Regions from separate parts of the Homo sapiens genome. Here region 2 is linked to region 1. Evidence: fine-mapped expression QTL. A gene starts in region 1. The other region holds a variant in brackets. All regions are shown on one strand. Distances are between the middles of the regions. Region 1 holds the start of CTSC (cathepsin C). Region 2 overlaps LOC101929174 (a long non-coding RNA gene).

Region 1 (5,384 bases):
CTGTGAAAGAAATCAGACCTAATCGACTCCATCTTGCTTCTAATCTTTAAGCTGTCCTTTTTCATTCCTGGGCATAGGTGGAACAAACTTTGGGAAGTAATTCAGTTCATGGTTTGACTCTGAAACAAAATTGATAATAGCCCTTTCCCAAAAAGACTCCCTTCTTGCCTGGGGACCAGTCTGCCTTCGCAGGACTAACAAATTAGCTACAAGATTAGAAATTACAGTTTAGGGGTCATGTGGCCTCTGGCTCCAAGAGTCTGCACCCTCCCACCCTCCAAGTTGCTTCTGGGGATAACATCTCTATTGTAAAATCTAAGATCAGTGCTTGAGATATTTTACAGACCCTGCACTCCATAGATCAGCTGACACCACTGAGACCAGCAATCTGGCTCAACCATATCTGCCATCCCACCCAGGAACAGAAGATAGCAAGAAAAACTCACTTAGACCCCCTATGATTCCATCTCCAACCTAACCAATCAGCACTCCCCACTTCCCAAGCCCCTACCCACCAAATTATCTTTGAAAACTCTGATCCCTGAATGCTCGGGGAGACTGATTTGAGTGATAATAAAACTCCCGTCTCCCCCACAGCCGGCTCTGTATGAATTACTCTTCCTCCATTGCAATTCCCCTGTCTTGATAAATTGGCTCTGTCTAGGCAGCAGGCCAGGTGAATCCATTGGGTGGTTACAGAAGTGTGAAGAGCAAGTATCTGAGTGCCTCATTATGTTTTCCAACACAGTCATACTTGAACATTTTACATGATGGGATATAACTTATTATACTAGAAATATATTTAAAATATCTGATTTCTTCTTTATATTACATTTGGCATTACATTTCTTTTTATTAAGTGTGTAAGCAGTTTATATATTAATTTCATTTCAGAAAGTAAAGGATTTGGGGTCTGATCAGTTTGAGAATCAATTTTTTGTGTGTGCGTGGAATGGAGAGTTAGTAGTTATTTTTGAGAGAGAACAGTATGGGAATTATTAGATTAGTAGAAATAAACTAAACTGAAAATCAATGTGCCTGAGGTTCATTCTTAAATCTTACTAAGTGGCAATATGACATTCAGCAAGTGATTTAACTCTCTGAATCTCCATTTCCCAATTTTAAAATGAATCCATTAGACTAAGAGGTCCACAAGATCTTTTTCTATTATTCAATCATTGAATAAAGACTGTTTTAAACTTTCTTTACAATTAAGTGTGTTGCTTTGATTACATTCATCAAAGAAATTTCCACCTAAACTGGCTCTTCAATATTGATGACCTAATACAAATTTAATGTTTTAACAATCAGTAACACACCTTCCTAGAGATTCAGGAAGGGAAGCTTAATCTGTCAGGGTATCTTTAAATAAATAGTGTGTTAGCTTAATTATACAATGTCAGCTTTCAATTCTAAGAAGGTATATAAAACCTAAAAGCAAGGTGTTCCCCAACCCCCCGCCACCAACCCCGCCCCAGGCTTTGGAAATTTGTGCCCCCATTGAAGAGTATTTTCACCTCTGAACTTTCAAGGACAACTCCTTTTGCCTCATTGAAACTGGCTTTCAAGCTTGGCAACCAAGATAAGAATATTAAGTACACTTATTTTAACACTCAAGGACACTTTCTGAATAAACCAGAATCTAGGGAGATATAAGTGAATAATTTGGACCTGCTCTCTTTGAATGTTTATAATCTGGTGGAAAAAAAATGGACATATGAATATTGATTTGTGACCAGTGCAAAGGGGGCAAAAATTCATATCCCAAAGAAAACGGGGACACATCAGGTCTGTCTTGTTCATCACTGTGTCCACAGGGCCTGACACCTAGTAGGCTCAGTGGGAGAAAGGAGCCCCAATTACCAACAAAAGCCAGGAAAGAACGGGAGGCTCTTACGGAAAAGGGTGATACTTAAACTGAGCAAGGAGGCACCTGGAAATAGTGCCACCTAATAATTTTTGGCGATCAGACTGACACACTAGAACGGTTCATAAGACCAGCCTTCTCCCATTGGCTAGCTTCCTTCCTCACCCTTCTCACCCTGGGCAAGCCGCTTCCTCTCTCTGGGCCTCTTGCTTTTCCTCTGTAACATAAAAGGGGTTGAGCAATATCATCTCTGAGAGCGCCATGTGTGTGCGTGCCAGAGGGAAAACCCCCACAACGCTAATACATCAAAACTGCAGGTTTGCACAAAAACTGAATTCTGCTGAATGCAAACAGGCAAACAGCATTTACCAGGAAACAAAACAAAATCAAGCACATAAAAAAGTAGGAAGAGTTGGAAAACGGAAGGAAGATAAGTTCTCAAACAGCTGGAATAGTTGATGTTAGCTAGCGAAGTTTTTCAGAGGAAAAAACAAGAAGTTGGTTATGAGGCAAGTGGACCTGAGAAAAAAGACTAAAGGGGAAGAATAGCAAGTAAAACAGAACTCCACTTGCTAGATCTCTCCCTCTGTCGCGCTCTTTCACCTGACCCACTCCCTTATTCCCCCCACACCCTTTCCTTCTCTCCCTACGTTACCGCACAGGAACGAAGTCTGGGTCATGTGCGGACCGCTTGTGGCTCTTAAATCCTCTTTTTGTCACCCTGGCCGTGCAAAATTTTGAAACGTCCCTCGGCAAAAAAAATAAAAATAAAAAAAAAAAATCTGTCCCTGGCCTCTTCCCTAGTTCTGGGTCCAGTTGCAGCCAAGTGAGGGGCAGCGCGCGCTCCCAAGTCCCCGTTTCAGAGACGCGCACGCGCCTGGCGCCCAACCCCCAATCCCCTGCTGCTCAGTGACCCCGCCCACGGGTTTCCGGGCCGGCGTAGCTATTTCAAGGCGCGCGCCTCGTGGTGGACTCACCGCTAGCCCGCAGCGCTCGGCTTCCTGGTAATTCTTCACCTCTTTTCTCAGCTCCCTGCAGCATGGGTGCTGGGCCCTCCTTGCTGCTCGCCGCCCTCCTGCTGCTTCTCTCCGGCGACGGCGCCGTGCGCTGCGACACACCTGCCAACTGCACCTATCTTGACCTGCTGGGCACCTGGGTCTTCCAGGTGGGCTCCAGCGGTTCCCAGCGCGATGTCAACTGCTCGGTTATGGGTAAGCCGCCGGCTCGGCAGTCCTCCGGGTCGTCCTTTCTGCCCTTGAGCCCCTAACGCAGCGCCACGCCAACTACCGCTTCCCCCCAGGCAGACGCTTGTGGGTGGCCAGAGCATCTTGACTGGATTCGGGGACCCTTGGGGACCTTCTTCCCCGCCAGGCTCGCGAAGTTAAAGTTCATCTGCTGAGAACTTCTAACTCCACACTTTCTTGGTTATCTTGGGGACTCAACACTTTGATCAAGAACTTTTTTATTCCTCCCGCTTAATTTTGTTTGCTTTGAGAGAGACTTGGGAACTGCAATCGTTTGGTTCTCCAGTCCGATCTGGTAGCGTTATTTTTAAAATTTATTTTTATTTTTTATTACTATTTTACTAGTGAAGATAGATGAGCTCAGAGACTCTCGAGGATATAGCATGAAGTTTTCTCTTTTTGTTAGATGGTGGGAAAGGGACTTTCTGCCCAGCGATTTTGGTTTGAGCGGGTGTTGATGAGTACTAGAAAACGGCTAGTACCACTCTGCATTGTTTCATGCATTGCAAGGAGGTAAAAATTTTTTAAAAAATTAATAACAAAGAAAACTTAACTCTGAACCTAGTAATTAGAAATGCCCAGAGTCTGCACAATGTTTGGCTCATGGAAGGCTCTCAATAAATACCTAGTGTTTGAACATACTGGAGATATTCCATATGCCTTCAGATAACATGGTTACCCCTAGAACAAAGAACCTAGTGAAGGGGGTGGGGTGGAAAAAAGACAATCACTAGTTAGAAGAGTCACACTGTGGTCTACCCAAACCCTCTTACAGCCTGTGACTTCTGCAGAGTCAGTAAAAAATCAGCTATAATTTTCTTGTCAACAGAACAAAGATTAAGTCATTTGTTACTAAAGAAATACCTTTTTAACTGACTGTATAGCATTTCATAATCCTGAACATTGTAACTTTTTTTTTTTTTTTTTTGAGAATGGAGTCTTGCTCTGTCACCCAGGCTGTAGTTCAGTGGCGGGATCTCGGCTCACTGCAACCTCCGCCTCCCGGGTTTAAGCGATTCTCCTGCCTCAGTCTCCCGAGTAGCTAGGATTACGGGCACATGCCACCACGCCCGGCTAATATTTTGTATTTTTAGTAGAGACGGGTTTCACTGTGTTAGCCAGGATGGTCTCCATCTCCTGACCTCGTGATCCGCCCGCCTCGGCCTCCCAAAGTACTGGGATTACAGGCGGGAGTCACCACGCCTGGCCTTTTTTTTTTTTTTTTTTTTAAATTTGAGTTTGAAGGTTGGGGCAGAAAGAGATCAGGATTTGCACTGCCCTGTCACATGCAATCTCCCATGTCAGAGCATTACTCTCAAACATGGAAAAACTTTAAAATACACAACTCTCCAGATGGACACAGCTGAATCATTTTCAGGAAGGCTCTGCCTATAAAATTACCTTTGGCCTTAATTCAGTAATTAAAGGCACCCACAGGTCTGAGCCCTCATCTATGAAGGTTAAACGTATCATTCCTATCAGCACTAATTGGTTTTATAGGATACAGACCTCTAGTTTGCTGAATAAACTTTGGAAGGATTCAGATTATGAGGTTCTAAACTGTAGAGCCTTTGAGGAGAAAGGTACCCCATTTCTTCTCCGAATAGATCATTTTGTGTCTTCTCCTGGGCTTAGCACATTGTCTTCCTTAGGATCTGATAGTCTGTTTATTTATCTTTTTGTTGTCATACCTTTTATTCTTGCATTTCCCACTTTTGACTAGCATTTTGCCTTTTCTCCGTTTCTGGAAGCCTGTAATTTTCAACATTCCCCATTTCTCCTTTTGTTCAGTGGAAAAATTTCTTCAGTGTTGGGATGCTCTGGAAAGGTACTGTAGTTTTGGGGGTCTCCCTGCCTGCTGGGCTGCATAGCATATCTCTCTTTTTTGAGACAAGGTCTCACTGTGTTGCCCAGGTTGGAATGCAGTTGTGCAATCATAGCTCACTGCAGCCTCCAACTCCTGGGCTCAAGCAATCCTTCCACCTCAGCTTCAGCCGCTCAAATAGCTGGGACTACAGGCAATGCACCACCATAACCAGCGAATTTTTAAAAATTATTTTTGTAGAGACAGGGTCTCACTATGTTGCCCAAACTAGTCTTGAAGTTCTGACCTCAGCCCCGCAAAGTGCTAGGATTACAGGCGTGAGCCACTGCTTCTGCTTGCATTATCTCAAATTTTTAGAGCCTAACTTCACAGTCTTGCCTCGGAGCAGGAACTGTTTGAGGCAACAAGATGGAGCCTCTGGTTTCTTCACTAGGCAGACTGTGCTCAA
Region 2 (5,384 bases), 38 kb before region 1:
GTGAGCCATCATTCCTGGCCAGAATTTTTAGAATTATTATTTCATCCCATTGCATCATCAGAAACCTTAGCATCTTGCAATACAGTATATGTTGGGACAAAACGATTATGGTGTATAGGATACTGTGAAGCAGAGGCTGGAAAGCTGAAAATCACATTATCCAGATTCCCTTGAAGCTGAGATTCTGGATATGTTTATGTTTCACCAATCAGATGCACAAGAGTGAAATCTGAATTTAAATTGTTTTAAGTACATAGAAAGGCCAGGTGTGAGACCTCTATTTTGCTGGTGTGGGTCACAACAAAACAGAGAGGGTATGGAACTTTCTGTAGCAGCAGCTTCTCAATTCAATAATCAGATTCCTGATTATGATGGAAAGAGAAAAACCCTTAGAGACACAGTTCTGTTATGTGGTTTTCCAAGTGATTTTTGGAAGTTCTGCCTAAAAGTCTGTTATTTCATTTATTCCCCAAATTCTGTTAGCCATTTAGCACACATTTATAATTTATTTCTCCTAGAATTATCTACAGTAGAGTCAGTACTCTGCAACCAAACACTGACTGACAGAATCAACTAATACAAGAGAACATATACTTGGGAATAACTGTATAATAGTCCAAGTCAAAAGTTTCCTGGCTGATCTGAAATTATTAGTGAACTGAGAGATGTTTGCATAAGTGTTTAAGAATAATGGATTTCTTTTCAGTAGGACTTCTGAACATTTTTAAATGGTTAATTTATCTTTTAAATCACACTATACAGCATTTCCTCCAATGTATTTGACCAGGAAATTAACTGTTCATTTCAGGGGAAATCTATTAACAGCTGGAGAAACACAGAGTTTGTGAAACATTGGTCTCATGTATTGCCCAGCAATCTGAGCCAACAACCTTTGCTTTTGTTCCAAGTCTATTTGTTCCAAGCAATTTATTTAGACTTTTATTTTCCATACATCTTATTGTCATGCTATAGTAAGTGTTTTTCTAAATAGGAATATCAATCTCCAGCCAGTTGAAAACAGTATACATTCTTTCATTATAAGTTGATGACATTATTTGCTTGAACAAATAAATTCCTTTTCAGCCTGCATAAAATTAAAAAAATTAGATGTAAAGGCAAAACCAGTTTATTTCCAGAGCTGACAGAAATGAAAGGGAAAATAATGAGAAGATAAATAGATTTTGTCTTTATTTTCCAGTTTTTTTGTAGATTTAAATGAGTTTAATGGGGGTAAGACTTGTAAAAGTCAGAAGGAACTCTGAATGTGTTTGAGATGAGAAAATATTTAACTACTAGAAAATCTTGGGCACTGAGATCATCCTTAGCTATACAAAATTAATGACATCATTGTGTAATGTGCTAAGTACTATCATTTTCTAGAGTAAAGAGAGGAGTAATTTTAGCTTACAATGGTAAGGAAAGCAATCGCAGAAGATGCGATGTTAAAGTTCCAGTAGGCTTATTACAGCTAGAGTTGACTAGGGTAGAATAGAATGTAAACAAGATGATTGAGGGTGGGTCAGTGTGATTGCAGACCTGGATATAATTTCTACAGATCTAATGAATTCTGAAAAGCATAATCAAGTCTCACTACTTGACTATGTATCATAATGTAAATCAAATGCTTAGAAAAGTGAAATAAAATCTGTGTCAGTATTATGATTAATTACCATGAATAAACTTAGATGATATTGTTACAATTACAAAATTATAAAATTTTAGAATTAAAAAGAATTTTTGAAACTATGTTATTCAAATCCTATACCCATCTTTCCACCTAAAATTTAATTCAGTTCAAAAGAAGAGGGGAAAAAATGGTAGCTATATTAGACTAAGTTGGCCACAATAAAAAAGTTAAAAAAAGATAGGCTAAAAAATACTCAAAGAAATAATGGCTAAAAATGTCCCAAATGTGGCAAAAGACACAAACCTACATATTTAAAAAGCTGAACAAACCCCAAAGATGAACATTGTATAATAGAGGCTGTTGATGTCCTGCCAATATTCTCTTTGCTACCCACTGCCCTGACCCCTCCAGTTGCTGGAAGTAGCAGTGTTGTCTACCACCCACAGTTTCTCCCTTCTGTAAAGAACTGTCCTTGGTCAATGGCAGCCTCGTTGCTCAGGAGGTCAGCTAACCTCACTGTCCATCCCTTGGACCTTGGCAAAAAAAAAAAAAA[AC/C]CCAAAAAAAAAAATGACTGATGGAGGAGTACCAAAGGCCACTGCCTTACTCCAAGGGGATATTTACACTGTAGCAGACTTTTCTCCAGAGATTCTGTGAAATTAGAATGAAGCTAGTCTCAATCTGAGACAATATTTTGTTAGCTTTTTTCCCATGCCCATCTTGCTGTCTCTACTCACCTCCTCATAAGAATATGGAGAATAGCTAGAACTGTATTAATGAAGCAGTAGGATGCTAACTACAATAGTCAGGGAAGCCCTCCTGGGGATAAAATGCTTAGGCTTCCATATGAATGAAAAGGAACTAGCAGGAGCAAGTTCTCTTTCTGTTCAAGAAAAAAACACAGTGTTGTTGAAAAACAGTGAGTAAGAGGAAAAGTGAAAGAAGTTATGATCAGAGAGGTGGTCAGAAGCCATATAGACCACGGTAGGAAATATATATATATATGTAAAATATATGTATGTGTATATATATATGTGTATGTGTATTATATGTGTATATATATACATATACACACACACATATATATAATACATATATACCTATACACGCACACATATATATAACACACACACATATATATATATTTAAAAGTACATTGGCTGCTCTGTGAGGATGGAGTTTAGAAAAGCAGGAGTTGAAGCACAAAGACCAGTTAGGATGCTAATATGATAATCCAAATGGCTTGGATGCACATAGACATGCTGCAAAAGGAAAGATTCAGAATATACTTGAGAGGTACAAATGATGTCACTTGCTGCTGCATTGGGCATGGGAAGTGAGCAGAAGAAAGCAATCAAAAACAACTCCTAAGTTTTTGGCTTGAGCAACTGAGCAGATAATGGTATCTTCTACTGAGATGAGGGAGTTTATGGGAGAAATAGATTTGCTGAAGGTGGATGAGAGTTAACAGTTCTTTTTTGGAAATGATAAATTTGAAATGCCTATTGATATTCAAAGTGAAAATGTCATGAATTTAGTTGTGTATGCAAGGCTGGAGCTCACAAAAGATGTCCAGATGGAAATTTGGAAGACATCAGCATACAAGTAGTACTTAAAACCCTATTACTGGAGGATCTTTTCTATAGGAAAAAATGTAAGAAGGCAACAGAAAGAATCTGAGACTCAACCCTAAAGTACATCAACAGTTAGACATTGAATACGATAATTTAAGCCAGAAAAGGAGACAGAATGAGGTCTCAGTGAGGCAGAAAAAGAAATGTGCGGTGTTAAGGAAGGCAGAATAAATAAATGTTTCAAGAAAGCAGGAGTGACTGCTGGTCAAGAGTTCTTAATAGGCTAAGTCAATGGTAGAGAAGTAACCACTATACTTGTTCTCTTGACTAGAGCTGATTGAGGGTAGTAATGGGAACAAAGACCAGGGTAGGTGTATGTTGAGGAGGGAGTGAGGTGGGTGGCAGGTGGCGGAGAGACAGGGAGTCAAAGAGGTTTATTTGTGCTTCTTTTTATATAACTACTAGAGAGTCTAAATGATAAAGCAAATAATTTAATAAAGAGTAAAATAGCTGATGAGAGAGACAGAAACACACGAAGATTAGAGGATTCGTGAAAATATAAAAGAGTGGAATCAAGAGCTAAAGAAGAGAAGGGGCCTTCAAAGAAATAGCATCTCATCTCCCATAACAAAAGGAAAATAATAATAATTTCTAAATTATCCTTGCTAGTATGTAAAATTACCATGCATTTTTGTATACTGGCCTTATCAATCTTTTTTATTTTTATGTTTCAGTTTGAATAATTTCTATGGACATCTTCCAGTTTACTTTTTTTCTCAGCTGCATGCAGTCTGATTATAAATATTCAATGTTATTTCCCTTATCTTTTTTTAATTTCTAGCAATTCCACTTGATTATATTTATTGTTTCTATCTCTATGCTGAAATTCATCTCTTTGTGCATGTCATTCTCCTTTTTCTTTAGGTCCTTTATTATATTAATCATAGTTATTTAAATGTTCCAGTCGGAGAGTTTCAACTATAGTTTCAGCTATCAGACTCAACTCTGAATCTGATTTTTCTTGCTTCTTTTTTTTTTTTTTGTTTGTTTGTTTGTTTGTTTTTTGAGATGGAGTCTCACTCTGTCACCCAGGCTGGAGTACAGTGGTGCTATATTGGCTCACTGCAAGCTCCGCCTCCCAGGTTCACACCATTCTCTTGCCTCAGCCTCCCGAGTAGCTGGGACTACAGGCACCTGCCACCACGCCCGGCTAATTTTTTGTATTTTTTAGTAGAGACGGGGTTTCACCATGTTAGCCAAGATGGTCTTGATCTCCGGACCTCATGATCCGCCCGCCTTGGCCTCCCAGAGTGCTGGGATTCTTGCTTCTTATTCTTGACAATGGGGTCATTCTTTCTTGCTTTTGTGGGTACAGAACATAATTGTTACTAAATACTGGTAATTGTATGTGGAAAAACAGCAGATACAAAAGTAAATAGTATTTACTCTTGGAAATGTGTGTACCTCTACTTCTGAGTTGAGTCAATCTAGTTAGTAGTTAGACTAGATTTGGTAATTGTTTTTGCTATTGTTACCTGAAGTGTACCACACACTTCCAATTCCTCCAGTGATAGAATATGTACATTGTGCTTAGAGTGGTTCCTTGGGTACCAGAACGTTTTTTTCAGTATTGCTGATCCATCCCCTGCTTTCAGCCATTCTCTACCACAGAGAGAATCTCTTACCATCCTTTGTCCTGGTCCCAGTTGGTAGACTATTATTGCTGGTTACTCAGTTTGAAGCTCTTGGAGAGAAGATGAGATTCTTGGCTCTAATGACCCAGTCTCAGTCTTAGGCAGATCCTATACACCCGGGCCTTGAAGCTTTGGCTTTTCAGCATTCCTGCTCCCCTTTTCCCCCTGGATCCTGCCCATACTCCAGTTGTAGCAGACCTCTGCTTTGTATCAGTCCAGGAACCTGGGCCCAAAAGTTTTCTTTCAAATTTCCAAGAGGTAGAGATATTTTAATTCTACCCTTCTCCCAGAAGGAATGGGTCTTTTTCTGGGTCCTGGAGAAAGAAGGTTTTCCTACCTTTTATGTTATCACTTTCATATAAGCAGAGGACCTTTTTCTGGCCCTTAATGTTGGAGGGGTTGTTGCCTCTTTCTCAGTGGCTTAGTAATTTGTTTTATTTGAGACATGAATCCAGAGAAGTGAGTGGTAATTTCCAACTTACCCCAGTGGCA

What was found. PIP is the estimated chance that this variant, and not a neighbour inherited with it, causes the effect.
Region 2: its variant is the best candidate, but not a certain one, in a credible set for the expression of CTSC in whole blood (INTERVAL, PIP 0.51).

What each region holds. Positions count from the first base shown.
Region 1 is chr11:88,335,195-88,340,578 of GRCh38, reverse strand. It overlaps CTSC (cathepsin C), which reads left to right and starts at 2,843. Exons shown (of 7, transcript NM_001814.6): 1 at 2,843-3,078. The coding sequence starts at 2,907. It overlaps LOC101929174 (a long non-coding RNA gene), which reads right to left and starts at 2,695. Exons shown (of 5, transcript NR_188511.1): 1 at 2,523-2,695. RefSeq lists an enhancer at 2,848-3,127.
Region 2 is chr11:88,373,318-88,378,701 of GRCh38, reverse strand. It overlaps LOC101929174 (a long non-coding RNA gene), which reads right to left. Exons shown (of 5, transcript NR_188511.1): 2 at 5,375-5,384. Among named protein-coding and RNA genes, the nearest start is that of CTSC, 38 kb to the right of the region's middle. The variant AC/C (reference allele first, on the strand shown) is at 2,181.